3 separate regions of the Homo sapiens genome follow, and all the other regions are linked to region 3. The links come from fine-mapping of genetic effects on gene expression. A gene starts in region 3. Each other region holds a variant in brackets. All regions are shown on one strand. Distances are between the middles of the regions.

The links.
Region 1: its variant is fine-mapped to the expression of WDR91 in whole blood (TOPMed, PIP above 0.99).
Region 2: its variant is fine-mapped to the expression of WDR91 in whole blood (TOPMed, PIP above 0.99). The same link has a PIP of 0.9 or more in blood mononuclear cells, macrophages, monocytes, monocytes after LPS, monocytes after Pam3CSK4 and monocytes after R848.

The regions. Positions count from the first base shown.
Region 1 is chr7:135,182,660-135,193,382 of GRCh38, forward strand. It overlaps WDR91 (WD repeat domain 91), which reads right to left. Exons shown (of 15, transcript NM_014149.4): 11 at 10,572-10,723; 12 at 6,685-6,793; 13 at 5,774-5,886; 14 at 4,313-4,510; 15 at 1,180-3,656. The coding sequence ends at 3,492. Among named protein-coding and RNA genes, the nearest start is that of CYREN, 17 kb to the left of the region's middle. RefSeq lists enhancers at 4,395-4,444, 5,826-6,045, 6,086-6,215, 10,537-10,723. The variant C/T (reference allele first, on the strand shown) is at 3,050.
Region 2 is chr7:135,248,951-135,259,809 of GRCh38, forward strand. It overlaps STRA8 (stimulated by retinoic acid 8), which reads left to right. Exons shown (of 9, transcript NM_001394401.1): 7 at 2,846-2,919; 8 at 6,164-6,275; 9 at 9,468-9,713. The coding sequence ends at 9,542. It overlaps LOC107984123 (a long non-coding RNA gene), which reads right to left. Exons shown (of 6, transcript XR_007060540.1): 6 at 8,763-10,859. Among named protein-coding and RNA genes, the nearest start is that of STRA8, 21 kb to the left of the region's middle. RefSeq lists a silencer at 1,583-1,733. The variant C/T (reference allele first, on the strand shown) is at 5,345.
Region 3 is chr7:135,205,485-135,216,343 of GRCh38, forward strand. WDR91 (WD repeat domain 91) reads right to left here and starts at 6,042. Exons shown (of 15, transcript NM_014149.4): 1 at 5,896-6,042; 2 at 4,092-4,271; 3 at 3,307-3,514; 4 at 1,636-1,718; 5 at 444-574. The coding sequence starts at 6,018. It overlaps MIR6509 (microRNA 6509), which reads right to left and starts at 1,594; the gene lies at 1,510-1,594. RefSeq lists silencers at 1,426-1,585, 5,745-6,284 and an enhancer at 3,375-4,574.

The sequences.
Region 1 (10,723 bases), 23 kb before region 3:
ATGGGCTGGGGTGGAAAAGCATCTTTTCCTTGTGAATAAAGGAACAGAAAATACTTGGCTATTCTGCCTTGCCACTTATGGAAACAAAAAAAAAATCCTTGGCAATTGGAACTGACAAAGAGGCTTTACTAGTCCAAGCTTCGGTCAGGCTTCTGAGTGTTCTGCAAGGCCCGTCTGTGCACTTCCTTGTAAAATCCAGTCTTAGCAAAAACCCCTTTCCCCTCGGTATCTGATCACCCTCCAAGCCTTATCAGGCTCCTCACCCTCCACCATCCCCGAGTGGCCTATCACCCTAGCCTGTATTCAGCAAGAGTCCTGTTAGGTCAGTTTCACCAGAATCTCTCTTACCCTGATGGCTCCTCTTAGTAATTTTCTATTCACAGACCTCCACCCTGCTCCTTGGCTATGAATTCCCACTGTGCACGCTGTATTCGGAATTGAGCCCAATCTCTCTCCCACATGCAAGACTCCATTGCAGTGGTCCCTATACCTATCAAGATAGTAGTCTTTACTGTACTTTAACGAGTATCATTGACTAAGTTTTTCTTTAACAGAACCACCCCTTGCACATTTCTCTCCTTAAAACCTCTTTCCATAGCCAGCTGAAAAGAGCTATTTGAAGGGAGAGATGCTCCCTGCCCCAGGCAGGGGTCAGGAATCTGAACTGTGTGATTTGCACAGATTAGAGTCAGCACCCAAAGCATTTGGGGGTTTGGGGGATTTTTTTTAACTGACAGCTAAACTGCTGTTTATCATGTGAGGTAATGCACGTGTCAGTTAGCTAGATTTAATCATTCTACATTGTCTGTATTCCACAATGTATACATACTTCAAAAGATTACATTGAACTCCTAAAGCATTTAAATGGGGACTGGCTATGAGGCCCTCCCCATTCAAATGCTTCCCTCAACTCGCAGAACACAGCCAAGGCCTGAGGCCATGGAGCAGAAGAGGCAAATACCGGCAGGTATCTGAAGAGAGGGAGGAAATGGGGAAGTGCACCTGCAAGGCTCTCGGTGCAGCCCTCCCCAGAGCTGAGGGTCCACACCTGGGCTGGGAACTGAGGCTGGGACTGGGAAAGAGGTTTTCTTCTATGCCACCCTCAACCAAGAGAATGGAAGAGTCTTGCTTGGGTTCTTAAGCAGACGCCAAGCAGGTCTATGGAAGGAGAGATAAGCGGAAGTTCCAACATGCTTTATTTGAGGACGAGCGCTCACCCGGGATGGAGTAAGAAGTGGGATGGGAGAAGCGTAGGGTTCAAATTTTCTTTGTGTCTCTGTGATCCTTAAAGCATCTCAGCAAGCTGTAGAGATGGTATTAAGGGGAGAGAAAACTTTGAGATGACAAGAGGAAACGTTAATACCATTCTCACTCCAATGAAACCCATGACCACTTTTTAAATGTCCTACAGAATCACTGGGTGAGATAAGTAAGATCACTGTTTCAATACAGATGGGGAAAGATAATAAATAAAGAAGTCTTGGTTTTCTTCATTTGCAGGGAGGATTACCAGGGTAGAAATGGGTAAAAATCGGTAAATAACTATTTACTACTGTCTCTGGTGTTTTCTCATAATCAAGCCACTTAAATACCTCCCTACTTTTCCCTCAACTCCCAGAACAAAGCCAAGACTTTGGTACCAATTTCTTCGTGCTTTTCCTCAAGCAGGTAACTAGGAGTATCCCTACTCCAGCCTTGTGCCCCTAGAACTGGGCTGGAGCTCAGAGACTTAAAATGACTCATGGCAGCTGCCTTCCCCAGCTCAGTGATAAGGTCGCCCCTGCCAAACACTGGAGACCAAAGCCCAGGTCCATCACTCCCATAGTGACTCCTCCCATAAGCTCTGCCTCAGCTGTGAAAGGCAAGAGGGAGAAGGGGAGTGAGGCTCTTGTTCCTCCTCACCTAGTGGGAAGATATGCCTCTTCAAGGTCCCACCCCAGCCAGGGAGGAGAGGGCAGGCCTCAGGCAGGGTGTGGACACAGCTGGTTGACACTCAGCTCAGCTACAGATCGGCTCAGCCACAGTTGGGCCGGCCTGAACCCCAGGTGCCCACCAGCAGCAACTTGGCCCCCTTGCTCTACCTTCTCACCATTCGCCAGCAGTGGGTGCAGGCAGCCATCATCTTTCCACAAAGATGTTCAGTTGGAGGAATGAGAGGAGCCACCAAATGAAAAAGGTACAGGTTGAGCGTCCTTAACCCAAAGATCCAAAATCAAAAATGCTCCATAACCCAAAACTTTTTTTTTTTTTGAGTTGGGTTCTCCCAGTGGCGTGATCTCGGCTCACTGCAACCTCCGCCTCCTGGGCTCAAGTGATTCTCCTGCCCCAGCCTCCAGAGTAGCTGGGATTATAGGCACCTGCCACCATGCCTGGCTAATTTTGGTATTTTTAGTAGAGATGGGGTTTCACCATGTTGGCCAGGCTGGTCTCAAGCTCCTGACCTTAAGTGATCCACCCACCTTGGCCTCCCAAAGTGCTGGGATTACAGACGTGAGCCACCGTGCCCAGCCCCAAAACTGTGAGCACCAACATGACACCACAAGTGGAAAATACCACACCTGACCACAATCAATACTTTGTTTCATGTACAAAATTATTTAAAATACTGTATAGAGTTACCTTCAGGCTACATGTATAAGGTATATATAAAACATGAATGAATTTCATGTTTAGACATGAGACCTACCAAGATACCTCATTATGTATATATGCAAATATTCCAAAGTCTGAAAAAATCCAAAATCTGTAACACTCCTGTCCCAAGCATTTCAGATAAGAAACGCTTAGCCTGTCTTGGGAAACAGCAGCCACTGGATGGAAAGGGGCAGCCAGTAGCAGAGGCCTCAGCCCCTGCCTTCATCCTGAGAATCTTCTGTAACAAAAGCTGCCAGCTTTCAGGGAAGAAAAAGAATTCTGTGGCCTTGACTTAAGCCCAGAGAAACAGGAACTGCCAAACCTTGTTACCCAGCAGAACAGACAGAGAGCTGACCTGGCTCCATGGCAAAGCAACAGGAGAGCCTGGAGAGGTTCAGTTCAGGGCCAGCAGAGC[C/T]AGGCTGGGTGGGAGGGCTGTCACTGAAGCAAAGTGACACACATCCTAGAAAGAGACATCAGGGGACCACAAGAGTATTCTCTTTTTTTAAAAAAGAAAAAGATAAATGGGCACATATATACAAAATACTGTCAATTTCTACTGGGCCAACACAGTAGCCACTGCAATGTTTCTCCTTCTTCCGGAGCTTTCCTCCCATAGTCTCACATGTACTCCTGGCACAGCCACAATACCAGTCTCTGGGAAGCATATGTCACCTACTCCACGTGGGTCCCATTCCAGTCACCACAGATGGAAGCACCTGAGCCTCCTTGCCAGTCTTTCCCTGCAGAGTCACTGCACTGGCAGGGAGCTGGAGTGGAGCACGTGGTTTTCCTGTCCTATATCTCCTCCCCCCACCGCAGATAATACTGCTTCCTCGGGTGGCCCTTGGGGCAAGTCATCAGGCTTTATGGGCCAGGAGGGTGGTCAGCTTGATCTTGCCATCCATGGAGGCGGTGAGGCAGGTCCCACAGTCCATGGCAGTGCTCCAGTCCACGGTGACCACAGGGGCTCGGTGGCCACCTAGGCTCAAGCAGCTCTCCAGAACCTTCTCATCGCCACCCAGCTGCAAGAGGACAGGAAAGAGGAGGAGGTGTCAGCAAACACCAGTTACACACACTTGATCCACTTTCAGTGGCCTACCTGAGGATGTGCCTGAGGCCAGACACACATGCCCACCTTTCCAGAAAGTCTGTTTAACTTTTTGAACCAGGAAATGCTTGCACTTTCCCAACTACAGCTGGTCCATCTGAAGTGGAAAACAAGTCCCTGAGCGGCTCCTTAAAAAAAGGCATTTTCTCAGCTGCCTTGAACTTGCTGTGGGCTGGTGCCTCTTGCACGCACACTGGTTGTTCTCACTACAGCATCACTTCTCACTACCTGGCAGGTGCTCATGAATCTGCTTATTTGTTGAAGGTTCATGTCCCATACTGGGGAATGCAAGCTGCAGGAGAGCAGGGCCTCGGGCAGCTCTCTCCTGCCGGGGGGCCAGCCTGCCACACCCAGAACAGTGCTGGCCACAGGGGAGCCTTCAGTTAGTGCAGAAACATGGCTCTCCTCTGAACCCCAGCACTAGCTAGCCAGCGATCCTTTGTCAAAGGCATCTCCACAGCCATGCAGCTCGGGGTAGAGGGCCTCGCTCAGTAGCCATGGCCCAGACCTCCAGGGAGGAACCCCTGCCCACCACAATACCACTACCTCCCACCCCCAACCATCAGTTACCTTGTAGATGACGCCGCCTGTGGCAGAACATGTCAGCATGTAATTTCCCTCCGAGTCAAAAGCGAAGAGTCGGCCCCTGGGGACTTGAACCTGCTTGTAGCCGCTGTATCCAGACAGCACAAAGGGGCCCGTGGCATCTGAGGGGAGGCTGTACTCGGATACCTTGAGGCCACTCTTGTGGATGTTCCACTGGATGAACTGCAGTCACAGGGCACAAGCAGGGTGCTCGCAGCGGAGCTGGCCAATGCAGGCCTCAAGGAAGAGCCAGGACCCACCCCACAGCAGAGGCTGGCGAGGGCGACCCGCCTCCCCCAGCCACAGTGCTGACATCCTTGAAAAGCCTTTCAAGTGCCAGAGGCAGAAAAGTGGGTGAGAGGTCTACAGGTCCTATCTCTGGTCAACATGATTTAAGCATTTTTTAGGGAAGAAAATCTAGAAAAAGAGGCAGCAACCTCACATTAAAGTCCAACCCTTCTCTTTCTCTCTGGCCTGACCCTAGGAGAGGAAAAGGGACAGCAAGTGGCTTTGCCTGGATTCCTGGTCTCTCAAGCAGGAGGAATGCTTCAAGTGACATATTATTATTATTATTATCAGAGTTAGACCCCAACTAGATTTTTCTATCCTAGGAACAAGGTACAGAGGACAAAGTCCACATATATTTCCAGTGTTTCAGGCATATAATCAATTGAACACTGGGCGATGCCATTATAAACTCAGCTTCTTATCATAGCAGACATCATCCCTTAGCCTACCCTACGGACAGGATACTTGGCTGTGACCACCTCTTCACTGAGCATCCCACATAACAAGGAAGTCGAGCTTTAATGTAAAAGTCCCTTCCCAAACTTTTCAAATGAAGAATTTATTTTGTAGTTACTCCTTTCAAGGGATAAAAAGATAGACAGTGTCCAATCCCAAAAGTCCAGGCAGGCACACATGGAAAGGGCATCCTTCTCCCATCTCTGCCCCTGCCAGCTCCCCCTCTGAGGCAGTCACTATTCCTAGTTCCTAACCCTCCACAGAGGGAATCTACCAGGGGCATGTACTTTTCCTTTTTTTCTGGCTTCTTGTTTACATCTCTGGGCTCTGCTGGGGTCTGTACACATCTAAGAAGCTGTACCCAGCCACTCAGCAAACTACACATCCATGAGTGGTCCTGGGACCACTCACTACCAAGCCCAGCAAAGCAAACTCAGCCCTAAATCCAGACCCCACAGATACATCTATGGTAAGATGAGTAATTTTTGGTACTTCCTTTCATAAGGATAGCCAACTCCCACTGAATTCACTAAAACCTCGCAAAGATTGTAAGACGAATTACTAGTTTATCCCTATTCTACAGATAACAAAGCTGCAAAAAGAGGCCCCAGGTTGCAGAGCTAGTAACAGGTATGGCCACAACCTGCAGCCGGCCCACATGTCATCCCGGTGCTCTCTTATCTGAATCCTGCAGCCGCCTACCTTCCCGTCCTCGCCGATGCTGTACACGGTGTTCTCATCATAGCTGAACTCCACAGAGTAGACCTCCCCGTAGTGGGCCCTCCAGCTCATCGCGCACTCATGCTGCTGCATGTCTGAGGCAATGAGACACGGCCACTCACATCCTGGCCAGGGCTCTGCAGAAGGAATCTGCCTGCAGCAGGAGGCCCCCTCACCCTCTACTCAGGCTGACAGCTGTTCTGGAAGCCAAGGGCAGGCACCCAGGACCCAATGAGCGCCATAAAGCTGCCCCTGCCCAAGAGGTCAGGCTGCTTCTAAGCCTCAGAGGCAGCTTCTTTCACCAGGTCAGAAGTGAGGCTCAGGAGTCCCTGGGGGGAGCTCACCTGGGGAGCCCTAAGTCTAGGAAGACACCTGAGAAACTCCCCTCTGTAACTTCCCCATGTGCCCTGGGAATCCCCTAAAGATACAGTTGCCTTGCCCCAGCCCAGGCTCTGGGGATGTCTCCTGGGGACAGAGCCCAACCTGGGGATTTCTACACAGCATGCCAGGTGATTCTGATGTATGCCTCTGGTTAAGGAGCACTGTTCTGATGCTTTTGAGAATCAACTACCCACAGCAAGTAGGTAGGACAGCAGTACTCTTGTATGCCCTCCTGTATTTCACATGGGTGACAAGGACTCAGATGGAACAACTCAAGACTCAAGGACCGCTGAGCTCCACCCCCTCCCATGTCTATTGACACTAACTATGGGCGAGTTTATTACGGTGGGTGTTTTGAAAACGTTGACCAAAGTTAAGCTGTAGTACATGCATCTGAAGTCAGGGTTTTGCAAAAGCCTCTAGCCCAGCTGGCAAAAAAATCCAACGTCGGCAAAAAAAATTGCCTGGGAAATCTAAGGAGATCAAGGATTGCTATGAGCACACTTGCATACCAAACAGCCGGATGACGCCATCAGCTGCCCCTGTGACCAGCAGGTTCCCGTTGTGATTGAAGGCTGTACAGTTGATAGCAATGGGTTCTGGATCCAGGGAGAACTGGAGCTATTGAAATAAAACAAAAATGTCAGTAGCAGATCTTCACTCAGCCCAGGCACGCTGCTTATTCCAATGCAGACAGGTGCCCCAGACTGGGTTTTCCACCAGCTCCTCCCTTATGTAATCTGGAAATGTAGATCTGAGCCTTTGCCAAAGTGCTGTGCCAGTGACCTTCTGTGCTCTTTTGAGAACAAGTTCTCTGTGCCTAAATACATTCTGGTTTCCATAGAGAAATGATAATCCATGCTTGCTCCATTATAAAAGAAATAATACATATCTTAGCAACCTACACTTCACCCAGAATGCATTCCAAGCAAATTCTCATTGAAAAGTCTTATGCCCTCAGAAAATAACACTTCATCAACTGCCTTTGATGACAGACAACACTAATAAACCTGCCCTATGGCTCCCCACAGAAACACTCAGAAATATAGTAGCAAACAAAACCACCTCATAGAACATAATGTCTATTAATTACATAATTAATGAACACTATCATTTCAAACAATATGAAACCCTGGGAACACTAAATAATCCTCCTGAAATTAAAAATGCAAGATAGAATGTTATTTAAAATACACACAGAGTACTGAGCTAGCAAATAAAAGAATCCTCTAGGGCCACAACTAAGAGAAAGCAAGAACGCAGAGAACCAGTGCACTCCAAAGCCGGCTTTCACTATGGGGAATTAATCAGATCCAGATGACTCAAGTTCCCATTCTGCTACCCATGAGGAGCTCAGGAGCCTGGAGACAACCATGTGTGATCTGCCCAAGGTCAGGCGATAAGAAACCGTCACATGGAGCTGAGACTCCAAAGAGCTATACCTTCAGTGCAGGAATGAACTAGAAACAAACCTACTTCACAGAAAGGGATAACAAGAAAACTTACCTCCCTGCAAATTCATAACCACAAACTAGCCCTGACGTGGGAGGAACCTGGCAAAAATTAATGCAAATCCAAAGAAATGCACCTCCAACCCAGGCCTCAAAATATTCTCAGAGATACTGGCCCAAAAAACACCATGATCACAATTCATAAGAAACAGGAAAATAAGGCAAAAGGAGCCAGCACCCACAGAGACAACAGAGCAGAATCAGACCCACAAAGACTTCAGACATTAGATTTATAATGAGAACATACAAGCACATTCAATTGTTCAACAAAATAAAATAAGGAATTGAAAATATGGGTAAAAATGAGAGACTATAAACACGACAAAGCAGGTTTTAAAAAATGAAGGTGAGCTTCTAAAAATGAGAAACACAATAACTGAAATTACCATCCTAATAAATAGATGAAACAGAAGATTAGATATAGTAGAGGAGAGATTAGCAAACTGATGGATCTGAAGAAACTATTATCAAGAATGCAGCAAAGTGAAACAAAAAAGAGGAAGAGGCAAGTTCTAACACATATGGAATGGGAGTTCCAGAAGGCAAGAGATGATCAGAGAACAGCAATACTGGAAAAAATGATGACTGAGAATTTTCCAGAATTGAACAGACACAAATCCTCTGATTCAGAAAACAAATCCCAAGCAAAACTTCAAAAAAATTAATTTCAAAAGTTAAGAACCAGAAAATCCACATCCAGAGAACCAGGTAAGATTTTAAAAGCAGCCAGAGAGAAAAGACAACAAAGGAATGCCAATTACATGGAGAGCTAATGTCCCGGTCTCAGCAAAGGCAGCCAGAGGATGGACCAAGTCACAAGGTTAGGGAAGCAGTGTTCAGCCTGGAATACAAGAAGCTATTCTAGAAAAACACATATACTGTGGTTTATTCATATGGAGTCAGAAAACCTGCAAAACAAAAATTCGGTTGTTTAGGGATATATAGTAATTGACATGATAAAGTAATTTTTTAAATGTAAGGCAGGCCGGGTGCAGTGGCTCATGCCTGTAATCCTAGTACTTTGGGAAGCCCAGGTGGGTGGATCACCTGAGGTCAGGAGTTCGAGACCTGGCCAACATGGTGAAACCCCATTTCTACTAAAAATACAAAAAATTAGCTGGGTGTGGTGGTGGGCACCTGTAATCCCAGCTACTCAGGAGGTTGAGGCAGAAGAATTGCTTGAACTCAGAAGGCGGATGTTGTGCTGAGCAGAGATTGTGCCGCTGCACTCCAGCCTGGGTGACAGAGCAAGACTCCATCTCAAAAAAAAAAAAAAAAAAAAAGTAAGGCAACAGTATGACAAAATTCAAGACAGGTTCTCTCTGGAAGGGAAAAAGACCAAGACTGGGAAGGGCTACACAAGAGCTAAAAAGTATTGGTGATGTTCTGTATAAACTGTGATGGGTCTGTGGGTGCTCACTGTACTGCTTTTCTTCTCATTATACTATACACCTATGATTTCAATATGCTTTTGTATGTATTCAATGTCTAATTAAAAACTTGAAAATCACAAGTAAACATATAATTACAAATTGTAATAAGAACTTTGGAGGAAAATACAAGATGCTATGAACTAAGAGGAATTGAATTAAACTGGTGGAGAGGACAGTGGGCAGGGAGGGGCACGAGAGATAGGTCTAGAGTATGTCCCTGGAAATGCAGAGAAGTGGTCAGACTGGAAACACACTGGCAGCATTTGCTTATGGACTGACTGTGTGAGCAGAGGGAAAAAGACAGGTCTGGGAAGAACCCCAATTTCTGTTGTGTTTTTTTTTTTTTTTTTTTTTTTTTTTGAGACAGGGTCTCACTCTGTCACCCAGGCTGGAATACAGTGGCACCACATCAGCTCACTGCAGCCTCCACCTCCCAGGCTCAAGCAATTCTCTTGCCTCAGCCTCCCAAGTAGCTGGGACTACAAGTGAGCACCACCACACCTGGCTAATTTTTAAGTTTTTTGTAGAGACAAGGGCTCACTACATTGCCCAGGCTGGACTTGAACTCCTGGCCTCAAGCAATCCATCTGCCTCAGCTTCCCAAAGTGCTGGGATTACAGGCATGAGCAACTGCTCCTGGCCAAGATCCCCAATTTCTAAGTGAGGCACATTTGCCAAAGTGAGGAAAATTATGAGGGGAGGGATGGATGTGGCAAGGGGTGGAGGTCAAGAATTCGAGTGTGACCCTGACGGGCCTGAGAGGTCTGACAGACCCAAAGGGAACACAGACCACTTCTACAGGCAGATGCAGAACAGAACAAACTGAACATCTGGAACAGGAACCCACTGAAAGCAGGAGCCTTGAGCTTCCAGCAGCATCAGGAAACAATGTGTTCAACATAAAGGCCATATGACTTGTAAGCAGTGAAACGAATCATTTTAATAAGAAGTAGCACTGCCTTGGAAGGTGAGTTTAGCATCATTCAATCTCTCTGGGGCTCAGGGTGGCAGCTGCAGCATCTATTACTGTCTTGAAGGAAGGGGTCCTTGGCTCTGAGGTGGTGCCCAGGTCCCCTGGGAGCAAGTTCACAGGCTGTCTGGTCACCTCGCTTCTTACGAATCTGTATGTGTCCTTGCTACTGCTGGCTGCTGCTGCTATAATTCTCATACAATTTTAAGGTAACAGTATGTCAGAGGGAGGCACGAGTCCTCTCCTAAATAATCAACCACAGGGGCCCTCTGGTAGGTTCTGGGTGTCTTCTAAGTTTGTGGCACAATTCTGAATGACATGTCACTAACAATCTGCCCAGTTGGAGTACACTACTTTTCAACACTCAAAACTTTATTAAAAATCTGAGGAGACCAAAGCAAAAAGAGGGAAGAGGCTCTTCAGAAACCCAGGGGAATACAGAGTGTGTGCCTGGCCCCAGAGAGAGCCACAGGGCAGGCCCGTACCTGCTGCTTCATGGTTTTCGTGTCCCACAGCAGCAGCCTGCCAGGAACCTGGTTCATGCCCTTGCTGCCGATGTCTGGTGCTGAGAAGTCCACCTGGGAAGTGAGGCTCGGAGCTGCTGCCGAACAGACGAAAGAGGCCCCGTTGGGGCTGC
Region 2 (10,859 bases), 43 kb after region 3:
GTTCCATGATGGCTCAAAAAAAGCCAGAAGATTAGGACCTCATACCCAAGGCTTGTATGAAAGGGCAGCCAAACAGATGTGTTTACAGCCCCAAAGTGCCAAGCCCTGGAGTCTCACATGAAGAAAACGAAAGGAAAATACAGTCATGGGCTACATAAAGATGTTTTGGGCAACAACAGACCACCTATACAATGGTGGTCACATAAGATGATAATGGAGCATATATGGAAACCTGATATATGGCACTCGATATTGGCATTGCACATCAAGTAGGGTAAATAATTGATATTCAGTAATGGAACTTGGATTTTTGGTTTTCCATATGAAAAAATATATATAAATAAATATATGGGCTGGGCGTGGTGATGCCAGTCTGTAATTCCAGCATTTTGGGAGGCCAAGGTGGGTGGATCATCTGAGGTCAGGAGTTCAAGACCAGCCTGGCCAAAATGGTGAAACACCATCTTTACTAAAAATACAAAAATTAGCTGGGCGTGGTGGCGAGTGCCTGTAACCCCAGCTACTCTGGAGGCTGAGGCAGGATAATCGCTTGAACCTGGGAGGTGGAGGTTGCAGTGAGCCGAGATCACACCATTGCACTCCAGCCTGGGTGACAAGAGTAAAACTCTGTCTCAAAAAAGAAAAGATAAATATATGTATATATGCCATCTAGGTTTGCATAAATACACTCTGTGATGTTCACATGACAAAGTTGCCTAAGGACACATTTCTCAGAACTTATCCCCATCAGTAAGTGATGCATGACAGTATCTACCAAATGCCTGAGCAATTCTGCCAAATTTGACTGTGCCAGCACGAACACTTCCCCAGGAAGAACACATCCAAAGAGAAAACAACCAGAATCTAATGTCTCCAAATCATGGAAACAGCTTTTCTGGGTTTTTCAGGGAGGCCTATGGGCTGATGTTTGTTGGGTATTAAGGGAAGCTGGCAGCAGATTCCCTCAGCTGTGGCCAGAAGCAGGGCTCTGCCTGCACTGCTGTGCCCAGGTTTAGGCCAGGCCAGGGCTGGGCGATAAGGTAGGCAGAACAGAGAACTCCCATGCCCGAGGCAGGGACAAAGCCACAGTTACTCCTGCTGAGCAGTGACACCACTGCAGCCCCTGGTCCACCTGGAGAGGTTCTGCTGCAGAACTGTTGTGTTAGAGGCCAGCAGCACGGTCAGATGGGCCCAGGAGGCTCTGGAATGCTCCATTTCAGTTCAGACATGAGCTTCCCTGTGAGTGTGGTGGCACTCTGGAAAGGCTGTGGAGCCTGGTCTGGGGTCCCCTCTCAGGCTGGCTTGTGAGGGGGATTTGCACAGGTGAGCACAATGTGTGGCCTGCGACTTTGGTGGGCTGATTGCTTAAGGACAGGGATTTCAGTTCTGGGTCCCTGTTTCAGGCCTGCCAGGGAGCAACATGTAGCTGATAGGCTTCAGAGCTGATGGACACTGAAGCACAGGTCTTTCTGTGGCCCCTTTCCAGATCCTCTTTGAAATGACCACAGAGATATCAAGTAGAAGGACAACAGAAAATGTCCGGAAAACTAAGAGAGGGGCCAGAGTCCCAAGGGATTCAGTTCCAGGAAGTCAATTGAAGGAAGACAGAAAGGGCAGACACCAATCCTCTTGGAAGAGCTGTGTGTTGCAGGAAGGGAAGAGGAGAGGAGAGACCCTGGCGGAACCTGCCAGTACCTGCCAACTCAGGGTCAGAGAACTTCCTCTCCTCTCCTAGGCGTGATTGCCAGTGCAAAGGAGATGTCAGTTAAAGTAAAGCATGCCCAGTTCAATTTTTAATACAAAAACGTCCCATGCATGATTCAAAACATTCTTATACTAAAAATTATTCATTCTTTATCTGAAATTCAAAATGTAACTAGGCATCCCGTATTTGTATTTGCTAAATCTGGCAGTCATGTAAGTGTAAATCATGTTTCTGTAACATATTTAATATTCTCTAACACATTAGGGGGAAGCAGGATGAAAAACTGTCTAAATAGCAAGATTCCAAATTGGAAATATATATTATAGACCTAGGGAAGTGACTGGAGAGAATTAGATCAATGTGTCAACAATGGATATCTGGGTGGGATTGTTTCTCAGTAATTCTTATTTTCTTGATCTGTTTCTATTTTCCAAAATTTCCACAATGAACATGTATGTCTCTTATAAAGCAGATAATGTTCAATTATGTGCCAGGTATGTCTGTTATAAAGTGGATAATGTTCAAATGTAACTAGATACTTCACATACATTATCTTACTTAATTCTTGGAATAGCCCTATGAGTAGACACTAATGTGATTCCTGTTTTATAGAGGAGGATTTGTGAGATGAAGTAACTTGTCCCAGGTCACACAGCTAGCAAGGGACACAGGCCTGGGAGTTGGCCTGCCTGCAGCCTAACCCAGAGCCTTCCTGACCCTCTGGATTCAGCTGTCCTGGCATGAGACAGCTAGACTGGGGACCCTGGGCTCCAATAATCTGTGCGCCTTGGGAAGTTTTGATGAGGTTTTTCTCAGTGGTAAACTGAGGCTCTGGTAATTGCATCTCACACCTGAGCTCCCACCTTCGTCGGCAAGAGGAATCACAATCCCCATTTCTTCCTGTCCCTCACAGCCACCTCCAGGGTTGGCAGTTTGTCCTGGGCACTCTAGAGTTTAGCATTTACCCCCTAGGAAGAACAGCAAGCAGAGCCCCTGGGTGTGGGCCCCAGCTCTGACATGCATGCCCTCTGGGGTATGTGTAAAGAGAGAGCCTTTCCACTCATCTCTCCCCAGCAGCCCAGGGCAAGCATGAAATTGTCAAGTTATTTCCAACACATGAAGTGTTGTGCTTTCTTTCAGATCCTTTTTGAGGATGCCTTTGATGTGGCAAGCTTCCTGGACAAAAGTGAGGTTCCGAGTACATCTAGCTCCAGGTGAGGAAGAGGGTGTGAGATAGCATGTGCCCCTGTGTGGGTGGATGTGAGATTGTGTGTGCGCAGGTGTGTATGTGTGAGTTTGCATGTGCATGAATGTGGTAAGTCAGAGACAGAGAGAGGAGACAGAGGGAGAGAGAGAGAGTGTGTGTGTGTGTGTGTGTGTGTGTGTGTGTGCACCCCTGCTGGGGTGTTCAGGGGCCTCTCCTCTGCAGTCCCTAGATGGGTGTTGTATTAGTCCATTCTCACACTGCTACAAAGAACTACCTGAGACTGGGTAATTTATAAAGAAAAGAGGTTTAAGTGACTCACAGTTCCACAGGCTGTAAAAGAGGCATGGCTGGGGAAACTTACAATCATGGTGGAAGGCAAAGGGGAAACCTGTATATCCTCACATGGTGACAGGAGAGAGAGTGAAGGGGGAAGTGCTACACACTTTTCAAATAACCAGATCTTGTGAGAACTCTTGTCATGAGAACAGCAAGGGGGACATCCACTTCCATGATTCAATCACACACCCCCTCACCAGGCCCCTCCTTCAACACATGGGGATTATAATTCAACAGGAGATTTGGGTGGGGACACAGAGCCAAATCAGATCTGGTGCCTAATTCAGTGGGTATTCTTGGGGATCCACCTTTTTTCTGTGATTGGAAGTGAGCTGGTCCTAGGATTGTGTCATTGCCCTGGGGATGACACTATCTGTGGCATCTTCAGAGTAGAAAATTCTTCCATCCTGGCGCAGGGCTGGGACATACCAGGTTATCAGCTGTAGGTTGTGGAAACTCATCTGTTCACTTTGCACCCCATTCCCAGTGTGTGTTAGTCCTGCTAACCTCCACTGAGGGCTGCTGTATCCCTGCCTTAAGTCCATTATATACTAAATGCCATAGGCTGGATGGCTTATAAACAACAGAAATGTATTTCTTACAGTTCTGGAGGTTGGGGAGTCTACGACCAAGGTGCCAGCAGAGTCAGAGGCTCGGTTTTTCACAGACGGCACCTTCTGGATAAAATTCACATGGTGTAGGGGCAAGGAATCTCTCTGGAACCTCTTTCTTTAAAAAAATTTTTTTTTTTTCTAAGACAGAGTCTCACTCTGTCACCCAGGCTGGAGTGCAGTGGTGTGATCTTGGCTCACTGCAACCTCCGCCTCCTGGGTTCAAGTGATTCTCCTGCCTCAGCCTGCCGAGTGGCTGGGATTACAGGTGCATGCCACTATGCTCAGCTAATTTTTGTATTTTTAGCAGAGACAGGGTTTTGCCATGTTGGCCAGGCTGGTCTCGAACCCCTGACCTCAGATGATCCACCCACCTCGGCTCCCAAAATGCTAGGATTACAGGCGTGAGCCACAGCGCCTGGCTCTGGGGCCTGTTTTATAAGGGCACTAATCCCATCATGAGGGGCCCATCTTCATGCCCTAGTCTATGATCTCCCGGAGTCCCCCACCTCCTAACACCATCACCCTGGGGATTAGGCTTCAGCATATGAATTTCGGAAGAACACAATCCATCGGTCTCTAGCACCCAGGGCAGCTTGCGGGCAGGTTCTCCCAGCTGACCTGGAAGGAGAAGGCGGGGAGGGGGCTCTGGGGCACAGAGAATAAGGGCCAACATGCAAATAGGCATGGGCCCTGAGTTTAGGGGACTCTCTGAGTTCTGCAAAGGGGGGTTGCTGCTTTTCATGGTGCTGATGGGAACGGATATGGAAGGAGGGGAGAAAAGGATAGCTGACCCCATGAAGTGGGAAGACACAAAATAGGATGTGAAAAGATTTTAAAACAAGAAGCAGCGTGACTAACAATGTCCCAAAGGTGTGTTTTCTGAGAGAAATCCTTTAGGACTGAAATTCCCTTGCTGCTTTGCTTGAAAAACCTGTGGTCTTAGAGCCTGAAGGCACAGGTTCTTCAGATACCTGTGCTGCTATCATGGCTAAAAAGAATCCTGGACATTTATTTTTCTGCTTTGGGGGTGAGAGGGACATATCCTTGTGATCCCAATGAATATCTCATTGTCCTCTCAAGGGGAGCCTGGCCTATGGGTGCCTGTGAGGCCTTGGGGCCACAGCTGTCCCTAGTAACCCAGCTGGCCTTTCAGCAGAGCTTCAGGGAAACCACACATCAACATTTTCCCTCCATTCTCCCTGTTCCACCCAGGCCTAGATGGACTTGGGGAGAAGTGGGATTGTCAGAGGAGGGCTTTGTCCTCTCCAAATCGACCTTACAGAGTGACTCAAGTGCTTCTCAGCTGTGAGTGGAGTTTCATTTTGCTGCAATTGGCTGGAAGACACATTCCTGTTTCTGTGCTGAGCTTGGACTGCAAAGACAACCATCGAGAAGCTGCCAGCCTGTCCTTGCCAGGCAATATTCAGAACTCCCTGCCCTGCTGATGGAACAGAAAAACAACCTATTAAAAATGTTCCACTT[C/T]CCCTAGAAAAGTCAGGGGTTGCTGCCAGAGGGTTCCTCATCCCGGGAGGAAGTGAGGGCTGCCTGCTGACTCACAGTGAGTGAGTGCCAGCTGTCCTACAGACACACAGCCTCTGTGCTCTAAGAAGCCCTTTGAAGCAGGGTCCACATTGCAGGGCCTGGCTCTTAGCGGGCATTCCTAAATGTTGCACGAGCCCCTGCCACCTTTCCTAAAGGCTGAGCTAACTCATCATCTTCTGAGGCCCTGCAATAACAGTTGCTGTCAGCTTTTGAAGGATTTTCATGTCTGCTTCCAAACTGTGCTGCTTATGGTGACATAAGCTCGAGTCACACAGGGCTTCTCCCCTTGTCCCAGGCAGGCAGGAGGAAAAGAGCCTGCACAACAGGCCTCCTTTCTGCACCAGGGCTTGAGTTCCACGTTAGACCCACTGAGCAGTGGCAACTCAGTGAACTGAACTCAAGATGTGCGGCGTGCTCCAGAGCTGCCTCAGCAGCCACAGTGGAACCAGAACTGTGGGGGCATTCTGCAGAAGATTGAGGGATAGAGGAACTCTCGTTCCCTTGTTCCAGTGGCCACAGCTCAGAACACTAAATTAGGGCACAGGAGCCAGTCTCACCACAGTCTCGATTTTCCAGGGGATTCCAGACATGATATGTGAGCAGAGGTAACACAAACCTTTCAAGGAGAGGTCTGGGCTGTCTGAGAATTTACATGTGCTTGGTTCATACTGTAACCCAAATCTTTCAGGGGAGGGGGAAGCAGAGTTGAAAGATCAGGATCCTGAATATTTGTTGCCTTTTCTTCCTTTCTGTTGTCAGTTCAGTGCTTGCCAGCTGCAACCCAGAAAACCCAGAGGAGAAGTTTCAGCTCTATATGCAGATCATCAACTTTTTTAAAGGCCTTAGCTGTGCAAACACTCAAGTAAAGCAGGTAGGATGGAGTAGAGGGCCGTGGTACCTCTGCCCACCTTGCTTAGATAGCAAAAAGGGCTCTTAAGGGCAGCCCTAACCAGAACTCACCCCAATCATACCATGAGGAGCCACTGGGCAGGGACACTCTCCATTCTCTCTGGCTTGCTCCATGAATGGTCACCTTCAGCCTGATGCATCCTGTAGAATGAATGGAAGATAGCCAGGGAAACAGGAAAGACAGAGAAGTGTCCTCTAGGGCAGGGGTCCCCAACTCCTAGGCCACAGACCAGTACAGATCTATGGCCTGCTAGGAACACAGCTGCACAGCAGAGGGTGAGCATGACAGCCTGAGCTTTGCCTGCTGTCAGATCAGTGGCAGCGTTAGATTCTCATAGGCGTGCAGACCCTATTATGAACTGCTCATGCAAGGGGTCTAGGTTGCTCTCTCCTTATGAGAATCTGACTAATGCCTGATGATCTGAGGTGGAAGAGTTTCATCCTGAAACCACCCTTGCCCCCCAGGTCTGTGGGAAAATTGTCTTCCGTGAAACTGGTCCCTGGTGCCATAAAGGTTGGGAACCACTGCTCTAAGGCAGACCTTGACTGGGAGCCCTTTGAAGCAGGAACCCGATCCCAGGGGCCTGACTCTCAGCAGGCATTCATAAATGTTGTGTGAACCTTTGACACCTTCCCAAAACGCTGGGCTATTTCATCATCTTCTACAGTCTTCATCACCTTCGGTAATATTTGCTGTCAGCTTTTGAAGGATATTAATGTCTGCTTCCAAATTGTTCCACTTACAGTGATATGAGCAGTGGGACTCTTGGTTAGGAGGGCCATTCCTGGAAGCTTTTGTCAGAGAAGGGGGGTTATACCTGAGCCACAAGGGGACAGGTCCTTTCAAATTCATAGCCATGGATTTTTCTTTACTAGTTTAGCAATAATACAACTGTTTATTTAAAAGGTAAGTTATAATAATAGCAAATGTTTGTCTAAAAATAGTCAAGACACCTGTTCAATAGGCTAAGGTATAACTTGCCCTTTTCCAACTAAGTCTTCATTTCCTTCTTCTGGGACCACAGTGAATCCTTATGTGGAGCCCTTCCTTGCAGTTTGCTCTCCCCTTCCCACCAATCCTTGGGTGACAGTCCCCTGGACCAGTTGTCCCCTCTTTCTCTCAGATACAGTTAAATTAGCCCACTTTATCAAGACTTTGAGAATAGACGAAAAGGACAATCTTTGCCTCCCCTCCTTCTCCATATATGGCAGAAAAGATAACAAGCAGGGATTCTTGTATCCATACAAAGCAAAGGTATGGCCGGGTGCAGTGGCTCACACCTGGAATCCCAGCACTTTGGGAGGCTGAGGTGGGCAGATCACTTGATCCCAGGATTTCAAGACCAGTCTGGACAACATGGCAGAGCCTCACCACTACAAAAAATATAAAAATTAGCTGGGTGTGGTGGTACATGCCTGTAGTCCCAGCTACTCAGGAGGCTGAGTTGGGAGGATTGTTTGAGCCTACAAGGCAGAGGTTACAGTGAGCTGAGATCAAGCCACTGTACTCCAGCCTGGGCAACAGAGTGAGACTCTCTCCAGACAACAACAACAACAGAACAAAGCAAAGATGCCAAACTTCAGCACTCCTAGATTCCCGATGCCTCAGTGCTGCAAGAACGGGCCCCAGAAATCTGCATTTGGAATGAGCTGTCCAAGTGGCTCTGGGGCAGGAGGACTCAGGCTTTGATAGACTCTGGTGTAAACAGAAAAGTTGCATTCTCCTCCCAACCTCTGCCACTGTCTTCCTGCTGAACAAGGGGCCCACAAGATTTGCCTGGAGACTGTGGTCCCACCTCCCTGACACTCTTGATCCCTATTTCCCTGCCCCTATCAGGAGAGCATGGTGAATGGGAACTGCTTCTCCAGGGCAGGAAAGGCTCAGTTTGTGGAGGTCGTCCCCACTATGAGGATATCACCCTTGGGACCAGGTCCCACATTCATTAGATGGTTGACTGGGGTCAGGGATGCCACCTGGTTCCATGGGGATCAACTCTGATCTGCAGGGCTGACAAGTTACAGGGGTCATTTTCTGCTAGGATGGAGACAGACAGAAGGAGCAAAGCCTCAGGAACATATTTTTAGAGGAAGAAGTCATGGAGAGTCCTGAGGTGTTGGCTGGGATCACTGTTTACAGTGTCCCTTTAGGGACTGAGAAACCCTTGCTAAGCAAACAGTGCTGCTGCTTTTTTTTTTCACCCAGGATGGTGTGTAGTCATGGTGTGATCTTGGATCACTGCAACCTCTGCCTCCCAGGTTCAAGTGATTCTCATGCCATGGCCTCCCGAGTAGCTGGGATTACAGGCGCACACCACCATGCCCAGCTAATTTTTTTGTATTTTTAGTAGAGACAGCATTTCGCCATGTTGGCCAGGCTGGTCTCGAACTCCTAACCTCAGGTGATCCGCCTGCCTTGGCCTCCCAAAGTGCTGGGATTACAGGCATTGAGCCATCATGACCAGCTGCAGTGCTGCTGCTTAAAAAAATATCATCTCCTAATAGGTAACCCATATACATGGCATAAAATTTACAAGTTACCAAAAGATATACAATGGACACTTAGTCTCTCTCTCTTCCTTGCTTCCTACCCCATACCCTCCCCCAGAGGCAACTACAGTGACCAGTTTCTTGTACACTCATCCAAAGATATTCTACAGATATTATATATTCTTTCAAACACAAATAGTAGTAGCCTACGGTACACATTGCTTTGCACTTTGCCCTTTGTAAATAGTGTATCCCACAGAGAGCACGCTGTCTCATTATTTTTGTTGGAAATGAGCTGCATGGTGTTTCATTGGTGGGAGCACCGTGGTGCAGTGCACCGTCTTCTATTGATGAGCATTTGGATAAAGCCTTATGAGGTCCTCTGTCTCTCTTGTGGGAACCTGGAAATCCCCAGGATAAAAAAGAAGCCAGTTCTGCTGTGTCCTTTCTGGAGGTCATAGAATGCTGAGTTGAGTGAAATGGAAATGGGACCTTCCCCCCTTAGAGCCCTTGCTTCCTGGCCCAAGCTGGAGGTGAAAATGCAGCGGAAGAGACGTAGGATAGAGTCTGGGGGCTGGGCACACCGGAGATGCAGGAGCCTTCCTATCTGCCTCGGGCCCAAGACCCACAGATAAAAAGTGACCCTCTTCCACCCTGTGTCTTGCAGGAAGCATCCTTTCCCGTTGATGAAGAGATGATCATGTTGCAGTGCACAGAGACCTTTGACGATGAAGATTTGTAATGCAGAAGAGGAGCTGCGAGGGGAGGGACTGAATGAGGTGGGCAGTTCCCAAGGTTGAATGCTGGCAGCTAAGGTTGCACCTGCCTTGGCCTCCAGGACTCTTTGGAGTGGGTTGTTCCAGAAGCATTTTGATGATTTTAGTTTCTGATTATTATAAAGTATAAGAGAAGCACGGCCTCGTGTTGGTCTTTAGGGACTGTTTGGCACAAAGGGCTGGCCTGCTGCTATTGTGCTCCTATTAAGGGGGTAGAAAGTACAGCTGGGGCCCAGGCCATGGGCCTTTCAAGGAGGACAGGCAGGATCTGTCCTCGGAGGTGACATAACACCAGGTACTTTCAGCATGTCCTGGGCACAGGGCATTGCCCTGATGGGTTCTAGAGAGTTCCACAGCCCACCTGCTCATCCTGCACACTCTGAGAGCCAGGGGCAGTGCTGACCTCAACCCTGTGCCACAGGACAGCTGGGTGGAACCAGATTCATCTGCTGCTCCTGGTAATAAAGTCACCTGAACAGGAGCTACAGTGAGGTCCGAGGGTTCCGAGGGCTTTCTGGTGAGGCTTCTGGGCAAAGGGTGCATACGTGTACCTGGGCTTGGACACTGGGGGTGAGGGTGAATTTTATGTGTCAACCTGGCTAGTCTGTGATACCCAGGAATTTGGTCAAACATTATTTTAGATGTTTCTGTGAAGGTATTGTTAATGAAATTAACATTTAAGTCAGGAGACTTCCAGTAAAGCAGATGATCCTCAGAATGCTTCCTATAGGTTAAAGGCCTGAATCGAAAGAGACCGACCTCCCGGGAGAAAGAGGGAATCCTGCCAGCAGTCCAACTTTGGACTTGAACTGCGGCTCTTCCCAGCCTGCCGGCCCGCCTTGCAGATTTTAGACTTGCACCTCCACAACTGCATGGGTCCCTTCCTTAAAATAAATATTTCACCTCTCTCTTTCTCTGTATCTACGTATATACACATCTTATTGGCTCTATTTCTCTGGAGAACCCAGACTAATGCAGGGTGTGCGGGGAGAATGGGCTTGCATGGCTCTTTACAGTTTTCAAGGCATCATAGCAGCCCCTCCCCTGCACTGAGGCCCTCCCAAAGGCTTGGACTGTGTTATCTCCTAGCGAGAGTCTGAAACACCGGCTAAGTCTTAGGACCCAGACCCAGTCCTGTGTGACTCCAAAGCAGTCCTGAGATGCATGAGCCCGCACTCAAGGACTTCCCCCGGGGTGTGCAGGGATAGGAGCTTCGCAAGCCCTTCACAGCTTACAAATCACCGCACCGAGTGGGCAGAGGGAGGCTCTCCAGGAGCTGGGCA
Region 3 (10,859 bases):
CGGTGGCTCACGCCTGTAATCCCAGCACTTTGGGAGGCCAAGGCAGGTGGATCACTTGATGTCAGGAGTTGGGACTAGCCTGGCCAATACGATGAAATCCCATCTCTACTAAAAATACAAAAAAAATTAGCCAGGCATGGTGGCATGCACTTGTAATCCCAGCTACTTGGGAGGCTGAGGCAGGAGAGTCTCTTGAACCCAGGAGGCAGAAGTTGCTTTGAGCCAAGATTGTGCCACGGCACTCTAGCCTGGGCGACAGAGCGAGACTCCATCTCTAAAAATAAAAATAAAGCTCTCAAGCAAGAGCAGTGTGTGCCAGGAGGCTCTTCCGCAATTCTCCTTCAGCAGGCACAGAGGACTGCAGGCAAGGCAAGATCAGAGGGAACTGTGGGGCTGAGAGCACAGAGGGCAAAGAAAAGGAAAGGGCCGTCACACACACTCACAGTTCCGAGTCCCCCAGGCGGTCCATGTTGGAGACATAAGGAGGCAATTTGTGTTGGACCAAGGCCTCTTCCTCTTCTGGCTGTTGCTCCTCTTTCTTCAGTCGGTGGATTTCAGCTTGCAATGCAAAAAGCTATACAGGGGTGGGACTGAGTTAGCCAATGATCTCACCTAACCTTCCCTCTGCGGAGGAAGATTTCTAGACACATCGCATCCAAGCCCACTGGTCTGAGTGCCACTCGCCTCAGCGTCAAGGGGCCCATCTCACTCTGCTCACTGCAGACTGGGAAAAGTGACTGCTGTCACTGGACAACAATGAGGTGAGAAAACCAAAAACCATTAGAAATCCAAAACCCATTTTCTTTTTAATCATTTGACTTGCTTCCTCCTAGATTCACTGAGAAAAATAGCTCCACCCAACCTGTTTTGCTTTTTAGAATCTACAAAATCAGGCTTTAGAACTCTCAAAGCCTGACTCTGGAATGGAAAAAAAAAAAAAACCTGTTAATGAACTACAGCGTTTTTAACCTTTTGCCTGAAGAAAATTACATATACACACACCCCAAATCCCAAGAATCTTAAACCCCATAACCTAAACAGCCTATAATCTTCCTTTTCCTAACAATATCACCTAAGGAGATCTTAATTTCAGGAAAGAGAAATGTTCCTCAGGCAACATGTACAGGCAAATGTGGGTCCCCTGGCTCTATTGTTTTATCAAACTAGAGAAGCATATAGCTGAGTAGGAACAACTAAATTATATATGGGTTATAAACTATATATATGTGTGTGTGTGTATATATAGTTTATATATATACATATAGTTTACATATATATGTGTATATATATATACACACATATATAGCTATACGTGGAAAGACAAAACAGACACATGAAAACAGGTTAGTTATAAGGTGGCATGGATGCATATAGTCTTTTTCTCCTTAAAAGTTAATTACTGTTACTATATTGTTCATGCTACATATCTGACTTAAAATATGAATCTCGCCTCTGGTTTTCAGAGACTGTTACTCTCCAAATCCCCAATACTGACTTTCTGGTGACTCATTTCCATCTGAGAAATTAGGTAGTGGCAGTGGAAACCTGATTAATATAGTGTTCCACTGCCACTACCTAATTTCACACACAAAAAGCAGAAGTACTTCCTCAGGAGCAAGCCTGTTCAGAACAAACCTTCTGACGCAGAACTTCATTTTCTTCTTGAACCTGGTTAGTCCTCTGACACTCCGCATCAAAGTTCAGGATCACAGGGACTGGTGCACGAAGTTAAAGAATAAGCCAGCCCCTGAAATGTTTAAACGTCCTTCCCAAACCCTTGACACACCAGTAAAACACATGAGACACAGGGACACAGAGAACAGAGTATAGGAGCGGTGCTGTGGGCTCTTGCGGGCTTAATGAAATAGTCGCTCCCTACAGTCTTGTCTCTAAGACTTTCTCTAGGTCTGGCCTCATTTCATTCGGACAGATTCACAGACGCATGACCATCTGCCTGGCCAGCCCACAGAGGGGACATAAATCCAAACCTAAGCATTTTCTCTCAAATACCAGAAGCAAAGAGCTAGCATCCAGTGGACTTCACAGCCAGTCTGAGCTTTAGTGAGGTCACTACATTCAGCTAAAAGCAGCCCTGGAGGCCAGTGGCTCTGCAGTAATACAGCCAATGAGGCAGAAAAGACCAGTCAGTTGGCTTCGCCTCCCCAGGTTGAGCCTCTCCCTGGCAAAGGTTTGGACTGAGAAGAGAAAGCTTTCTGCAGATTGCGTGGCCACCCCAAGAACAACGACAGTCTATAGCTTGGGATACTGGTCCTTCTCCACTGCCTCAGGCAGCTTCAGTTAGGAGGAGCACAGAGCAGACAGGGCCTCAGAACTGGAGAGGGGACTAGAGCCCATATGTGTGTAAGCTAGTTTGAGAAGCACTGAAAAGATCTTGAGTGACAGTTTCGATTTCACTGGAGGGCCCACAAAGTTAACTGGAGAGCCCTCAGGATGAAGAGAGGGAACAACGGGGAAGAAACAAGGCAGTTCTGGCAAGGGTGGAATTCACACTCATCTGGGGCACAGAAAGGGTGAAGGCAGGAAAGGTGCCCTTCCCACCTCCACCAGAAAGTGTTCCTCCCAGAGGCCAAAACGCCTGCCCATGGGTGGGCCTCTAAACACCCAAGTTTATCAGTGCCTCACCAGCCAGCCCCATTCAAGCCAGACTCCCTTCTCCTCCTCTAAATTTCCAGCCTAGGGAGCATGAACAATGGCCTTGGGAGCTCTGGCTTGTACACTTGGTAGGCTGTAAATTATTTACCTGCATTCTCATTCATTCCCCCTCTCCAATACCCGCATATATATTCTTAAAGCTACTGTGTTCTCTGGCAACTTGAGGAACACTGAAGTTACTATTAGAGACAATAACCCAAACACTAACACAGACAGAAGTTCCAACCCAAGAAGTCTTCTCATCTGTACCTAATCCCAGCAAAGGTATATCCCCGGGAACACGTTTCATGCACAGAGAGGGTACTCTCAAGGCTGCCCGGTTTCTCCAAGCAGCAGCTGCCTTCCAACCCCAGTGCCTGCTGACAAAGCCAGTACTAGCACCCCACTGCTGCCACTGTCACTGCCCACACGTCAGCTAATACTTCAGCAGCACAGTGTCAGAACTAAGATTTATGATTCCCTGGCTTACTGACAAAAACAACCACAATTTGTCCAGCCCCCTCATGTGACCCATAAAAATGGTCCCTGGGCATTTTTGTAGAAGAAATGCCTGTATGGAGACCAGCGGGCTACTGATCCTGAGGTCTGGGTGCCTCAGGCTGGGCCTTCAGCCCCAGGCAACTGAAAGGATATGCATGCACTGAAACAGGACGCTCAGGAAGTTGTGCAGGGACACAATGAAGGTGTCAGCCCACTGTCGAGAAAAGTAGGTAGCAAAGGTGGGGTTGGTGTCCGGGGATGGCAGGAAGGGCAGGACAAACCAATCCTTCCACTCAGCCTGGTTCTGGAGTTCCGTGGCCTGCTTTGCAAAGAACTCCTGAGCCTTGTCATTTCTGTTTGTCTGCCAAGACACAAGGAGGTAGCAAGGAGGGAGGAGAGACAGAAATCCAGAGGTAAGACTCTTCATCATTGCACAGCAGACAACCTTTGACTATCAGCCTGCCAGGTAAGTGGCAAAATAAAATTCCATAATATAAAGGAAATCATCACTCTTTTCTCAAGGAACTTGTCATTTCAAAGCTGGTTTAAGCTGAAGTTCTAATGATAAATCCCATCCTAAAAATTAATCCCTAGCTGATGTTCAAATAACTAAGTGACTCATTCCTCCAGGTCAGCTATCATCTTTATTACTCAAACTTTAACCCAGCTACTTATATTCTTTAAAATACCACCTTTGTTTTAAGCTTACATGCTTAACATAAAAAAGGAAATAGGAATGGGGAAGACAAGTCAGATGATCTACAGATGACGACAAGGAAAAAAAAGAAGAAAAACAGTCAAAAATAATTGCACTGTAACTGCTGCACTCTTTCCCATAGTCACATACAGATTCCTCCCTAGGAACTGGAAGAAAATCTATTTTGGGATCAAAGAGCTCCTTCCACCAAGGGAAGCAGAACCCCTGAATCAACAGGCACCTGGATTGTGTAGACAAGATAAAATCGAAACAGGCTGGTTTTCAGCTTGTGGATTGTGGGTCTGTATATATCCTCCAAGCGGCTGAAGAGCCGACGCTCCAAGTAGCTCCAATAATCCCGAAGGGCAGCCAAGTCATACACCTGCATTAACTGCTGCAGCTGGTCCACAATCTTATCCACCTGGCGAGAAACATGGATGGAGAAGGTGGTAAGGGACAGAAGGGAATTCTCCCCTCCATGGAATAAAGCTTTTTCCTCTTGTCATGGCTTCTGGGTGTAAAAAAAAATTTGTAAGTTAGCAATCTATAAAATTTTCAAAACATACTAATGCAACGGTTTTTCAGTAATTTTCTGATGTTAGAGAAGTGGTTTGACCCTCTAGCAAGCACGGAAATTTCAGGTGTAAAAGGGCTCTGGCCCAGAACCTAAGAGATCTGGCTCCAGATCTTGGATCTGCCTCTGACTTACTTGATCAATTTGGCAGTGTCATCAGGCCAGGCACCGTGGCTCACGCCTGTAATCCCAGCATTTTGGGAGGCTGAGGTGGATGGATCACCTGAGGTCAGGAGTTCGAGACCAGCCTTGCCAACATGGTGAAACCCCGACTCTACTAAAAATACAAAAATTAGCTGGACGTGGTGGCACGCGCCTGTAATCCCAGCTACTCGGGAGGCTGAGGCAGGAGAATCGCTTGAACCCAGAAGGCAGAGGTTGCAGTGAGCTGAGATCGTGCCACTGCACTCCAGCCTAAGCGACAGAGTGAGACTTTCTGTCAAAAAAGAAAAAAAAATGGCAGTGTTGCTTAACTGTAGTTTCAGTTACCTCACATTTTTAAAAAAGGGGGTGGGGTGAAGAAGAGCTATGAGACAATCTCCACAATTCCCAGATCCCAAGGATCATGAGGAGGTGCATGGACTGACTCCTTCAAGTCATCAAAGTTCCACGAAGCCGTGGTAGCTGCTCAGAGTGTCAGCCAAGGAAGTCACCTTCTTGTGAGGAGCAATTACAGCAGAGTACAGAATCTGGAAAAGGGTTTGGATATCAATACCAATCCAATGCCCCTAGTTTATAGATCAGGCCACTGAAGCCCAGAGGGGTGAAATGATTTGCTTTTGCCACTAAGTAGCCACTAACTTTGGCCAGGCAGGAAACCAGATCTCCTAACTCCCCTCCAGTGCTCTTGCTGTTAGCTCACTGCCTCTCATTGAAGTCAGTACACACAAACATACAAATCACACACATATACATTCCAAGAACCTCGCAATGGAAAATCATTTTAGAGCAGGGGAAGTTTGGGTTTCTCTAATGTGCCATGAGGTCTTCCACAACTGCAGAAGCAAAATTGCCGATGAGTCCCTGACGAGGCCATTTTAAACAAACACCGCAGATACTTGAACGCAGCTAACGTTTTGGACTGCAGACTTCTTTGCTTCCACTGCCACTGGAAGCCAACACGAATATCTGTTGCCAAAACGCAACCATCTACCTAACCTCGGCTCCTAAAACCTCATCGCCATCCTGGCCAAGGAGGCTGGAGTGGAGACAGAACCCTAGACCAGGAGCCGGGGCATCGGGGCTCCAGCCTCGGCGATGCTCCTGACTCGGGGGGCGGCTTCAGGCAGGTCCTGTCCGTCTGAGGGTCTCAGTTCCTCATCCGTCAAGCTGGGGTCGGACGCGCTGAGGTCTCCGGCGCCCCGGCGCGAGTGACAGCGCCGCTCTCGCCCCGGAGGCAGTGCTGGGGGGAAGCCCGCTCCCCGGCTCCCTCGGGCCGCCTCTGCCCGCGCCGCTCCCGCCGGCCTCTCACCCGGAACCCCTTCTCCTTGTCCGCCTTGATCTCGGCGTCCAGCTGCCGCAGTGTGTGCGTGAACCCGCGGAAGAGCAGGTACTCCCGGACCAGCTCGTCAGTGCGCTCCACGGCCTCCGCCATCGCAGCGCTAGCGTCTTTAGGGGTGGTGCGGTGAGGGACGGAGGGGCGGGGCCTGGGAGAAATGGGGCGGGGCCGGACGCGGGCGCCGAGCACGTCACGCCGCGACAGGCCTACCAGCCCGCACGCACTGGGCGACCAGCCTGAGGCCCCGCCCCTCGGCCGGCTCCCCGCCCGAGGCCCCGCCCCTGAGCCAGCCCCAGCCCGCCTGGCCGCTCGAGTCACCCTTACCCCTCCCGAGGAGTGGCGAGGGGAGGTCCTGGCGGCGCCGGCGGCGGCTTTGTCTGAATTACTGAAAGTGGCGGCTGCCACCCACGTCAAACAAGACTGGATCTTAAGAACATCCCAGGTAGTCCCGAGGCGGGCAGGGGGTGCGGCGCCCTGTTGGTTGGCGTTACATCGCAGAGCTCCCGGTCCCCTGCCCTCCTCCTACACGGAGGAAGCTGGAGCCCTAAGAGCAGAGTGACCTGCGTGAAGCCACAACACGCGTGTCCTCAGAGAGCGCTAACTCCCCCAAATCTCTGCTTTCATTAGTAAGACGAATTGGCTACACAGCAAGATAACCAAGATGCACTGCTAGGATAGGCAAATTTCATAGCAGTGTATGTACGCTATAGTCCTGGTTTCTTGTGAAAAAAAAATTAGGTATGTATGTGTGTACATTTTTTAAATTCAGGAAGATTATACACCAAGTTCCTATGCAGTCGGGTCTCTGCATCCTCGGGTTCCGCATTCACGGATTCAACCAACGAGGATTGAAAATATTTTTTCCAAAGTTTTAAAAATAAAAAATAGCCGGGCGCAGTGGCTCACACTTGTAATCCTAACATTTTGGGAGGCCAGGGTAGGCGGATCTCTTGGCCCCAGGAGTTGGAGACCAGCCTGGACAACATGACGAAACCACATCTCCACAAAAAAAAAAAAAAAAAAAAAATGCGGAGCGCAGTGGCTCACGCCTGCAATCCCAGCACTTTGGGAGGCCGAGGTGGGCGGATCACCTGAGGTCGGGAGTTTGAGACCAGCCTGACCAACATGGAGAAACCCCGTCTCTACTAAAAATACAAGATTAGCCGGGCGTTGTGGCGCATGCCTGTAATCCCAGCTACTCGGGAGGCTGAAGCAGGAGAATCGCTTGAACCCAGAAGGTGGAGGTTGCAGTGAGCCGAAATCGCGCCATTGCATACCAGCCTGGGCAACAAGAGCGAAACTCTGTCTCAAAAAAAAAAAAAAAAAAAAATTAGCCGGGCGTGGTGGTGCTGCCTGTGGTCCCAGCTACTTGGGAGGCTGAGGCAGGAGGATCACTTGAGCCCAGGAGGTCGAGGCTGCAGTGAGCTGTGATTGTACCACTGCACTCCAGCCTGGGTGACAGAGCAGGACACCGTCTCAGTTTAAAAAAGAATACAATTTTTAAAAACACAAATTAAATATAGCATAACAACAATTTACATAACATGTACAATGTATTCAGTATTATAAGCAATGTAGAGATTATTTAAAGTATACAGGAGGAAGTGTATAGGTTAGATGCAAATACTAGGCCTTTTTACATCAGGGCATCCATGGATTTTGGTCTTCTAGGGAGGGTCCTAAAACCAACCCCCTGCAGATACCAAGTGACAATTGGAGTGGTTTTATCTGAGAGGTGAGACTATGAAGGACTTCTTGTTTTTTACTTTCTTTTTATTGTTGAAGTTTTTACAAGGTGCACGTATTTTTGTAAGTAGGAAAATAGCCAATATCTTTGAGACTTGCTTCTGCAGAATGGTGACAATAGGCCGGGCGCGGTGGCTCACGCCTGTAATCCCAGCACTTTGGGAGGCGGAGGCAGGCGGATCACAAGGTCAGGAGATCGAGACCATCCTGGCTAACACGGTGAAATCCCGTCTCTACTAAAAATACAAAAAATTAGCCGGGCGTGGTGGCGGGCGCCTGTAGTCCCAGCTACTCGGGGGGGCTGAGGCAGGAGAATGGCGTAAGCCCGGGAGGCGGAGCTTGCAGTGAGCCGAGATCGCGCCACTTCACTCCAGCCTGGTCGACAGAGCGAGACTCCGTCTCAAAAAAAAAAAAATGGTGACAATAACACCCACCTTGCACAGTAGTAATGAAGATTTAATAAGACAGTGTATGTAAAACGCTTAGCACAGTGAATGGCCTATTGGTAAAATGCATGGAGTGTTCCCTTCTCCTTCCCTCGAATGGTATGACTTTTCGTGTTTGTCAAAATACAACTCAGAATCATTGCTGCCCCTCTGCTCAGACCCTCCACTCCTACTCTATGGAAATTCAGCTCCAAAAGGGCTCTGATCTACACTAGAGAAAGCCAAAAAGATAGCACAGGGCAAGCCACAGCAGGACGAGACAGACCTTGTTCTGCCCTCTTTGTTTGCCCTACCTGTCTCCACAAGTGTACCCTCCAGGCAGCTAAACTTGCCTCAAGGGCAGGAAAGGAGAGTCACCACTGTGACTACTGGGAGACCAACTCCTACTTTGAGATCTCAGATCATCAAAGTGAACTTGGAAAATTTGGACAAGTTGCAACCACCAAAGCTTCCACCTACAGGAAAGTTGTGAAGTAGATTTCCCTAAGGGCACCTGAAGTCTGCAACCATAGTTCTCACCTCCCCCACCTCCATCTGCCCTGACACTTCCCAGACCAGAGCCTGTAAAACCAGCTAAGATTAGTTTTCTGATCAATGAAAGGCAGCTCCTCAGAGCTTAAGTACAAGCCGTTTGTTCTACAGGAATGTCTTCTCCAAGATACCCACAGGGATAGCTGCCTTTCCTCCTTCACGCATTTGCTCAAATGTCACTGTCTTAGTCCTTTGGGGCTGCAATTTTTTTTTTTTTTAGAAATGCCATAAACTGGGTGGCTTATAAGCAACAGAAACTTATTTCTCATAGTTCTGGAGGGTGGAAAGTCCAAAATCAAGACACTAGCAGATTCATTGTCTGCTGGATGCCCACTGTCTGGTTCATAGATAGTGCCAAGTTACATGCTCAGTAGAGAGCATCCATCGCCATAGCCTTTGGTAGATAAATCTTTTCTTACTGTAGTCAGTTCCTTAAAAAGTCATGAGCACCTCTGAAAACTGGAAATGGCCCACAATGATCCATCCAGTAATTCACAGGTTTCCTATTGGTAGCCCTCATGCTTGTTGTAGGAGGCAGCCTATGTATATGTTAATCTTTCGTTCACTGAAAATCAGTGACACACAATAGATACCCTTTTTCACTTCTCAAATTAGTAATTTTTAAAATGTATTGCCCACTGTTGGTGAACATAAAATGAAAGGGGCATTGTCATTAAGCTTCAGAAGGAGCTACTTTTCTAGGAGTCAATTTATAGATTATCAAAGCTTCCAAAATGTTTCTACTCTTTAGCCCAGTGATCCCACTTAATTTCTTTAATTTCCCTTAAAAAAATAATTTTAAAAATAAGCTGAAAGAAAAAAAAAAAGGCTGGGCACAGTGACTCACACCTGTAATCCTAGCACTTTGGGAGGCCCAAGTGGCAGAATCGATTGAGGCCAGAAGTTATGACCAGCCTGAGCAACATAGGGAGACCCCGTCTCTATTTTTTTAAAAAAGAAAGTAAATTAATTTAAACATTAAAAATAAGATTTATGCAGAATGGGGTTTTTTTTAATAAAAGTGCAACTTATCTTTAATAATGGAAGTTATTTACAATAGTGAAAGGTATAAGTATTTAGAGGCTACAGTGAGTTACCCTCCAAGATCTTGGGAATGAAGAAATTGTACTTCCCACTGAGAGTTAAACGGCAAAATCAACCTAAGATGGTTTAGAGTCCAAGGATGCAAAATCAGTGGAAAGAGAGAGAAAAGATATTAGGCTCACTGGCCTTGGTTGAGGACATTCACTTCCAAAATAAATATTATGTCAGTCGGAAGAGGTTTTAAACACAGGCACCCAGAAACCAGAGAGTGCCATGGGCAGGGCCCATGCTCATTTGCAACACAGCCGGCACTTGTCCTATGTTCTGACCTATGGCAAGGCCATCCCCAAAATGAGAAGGTGGCACTAGACCATCCCAAAATTGGGCCCCGATAGGCATCCCACTCCGCTTTTCCTGGTACAAAGCTCACAAAAAGACCATTTGTGTCCTCAGCATTTGACTACATGGAAACATAGCATTCCAGTGTCTTCCTCCTGGTAAACTAAAAGGCAGTTTTTGATTACAATAGTCTTCCAACATAGGTGGAAAGGATATCATTTATGCCAGTGTTACCACGAATAGTCCCTGTGTGACAGTTATATGTCTCATTCAGATTTACAAAGTGACATCGTGATATATTCTTCAGGCCCCTGTGCAATGAGGTTAGCACAAATCAGCCTTTCAGAACTTAGTCACTCCTGGGGACTACAGGAACCAGTTCCAGCGGGTCTGTACACACCAGTTCCACATGCAGGAGTCTTATTACTGATTTCTACAAGGAGAAAGAAATCTCAAACAACCAAATGTTCAACATTAGAGGAAATCTTATACATCATGCTACCTCTATCCCATGTAATATTATGCAATTGTCAAAGTTTTTGTTTTTTAAGATAATTTAATTATTTGGAGAAATAGTTATAATACAATGTGTTTAAAATTATGATTCACACTCTAGAAACCAATTTGGCAGTTTCTTACAAGATTAAGCATGCAAATACCATACAACCCAGTAATGACACTCAGGTATTTGTCCCAGAGAAAGGAAAACATAGATTTTTACATAAAAACCTGTACACAAAGCTTTATTCATAATAGCCAAAACTGGAAACAACCCAGATGTCCTTCAACAGCATGATTCCATGTATAGAACATTTTTGAAAAGCCAAAATG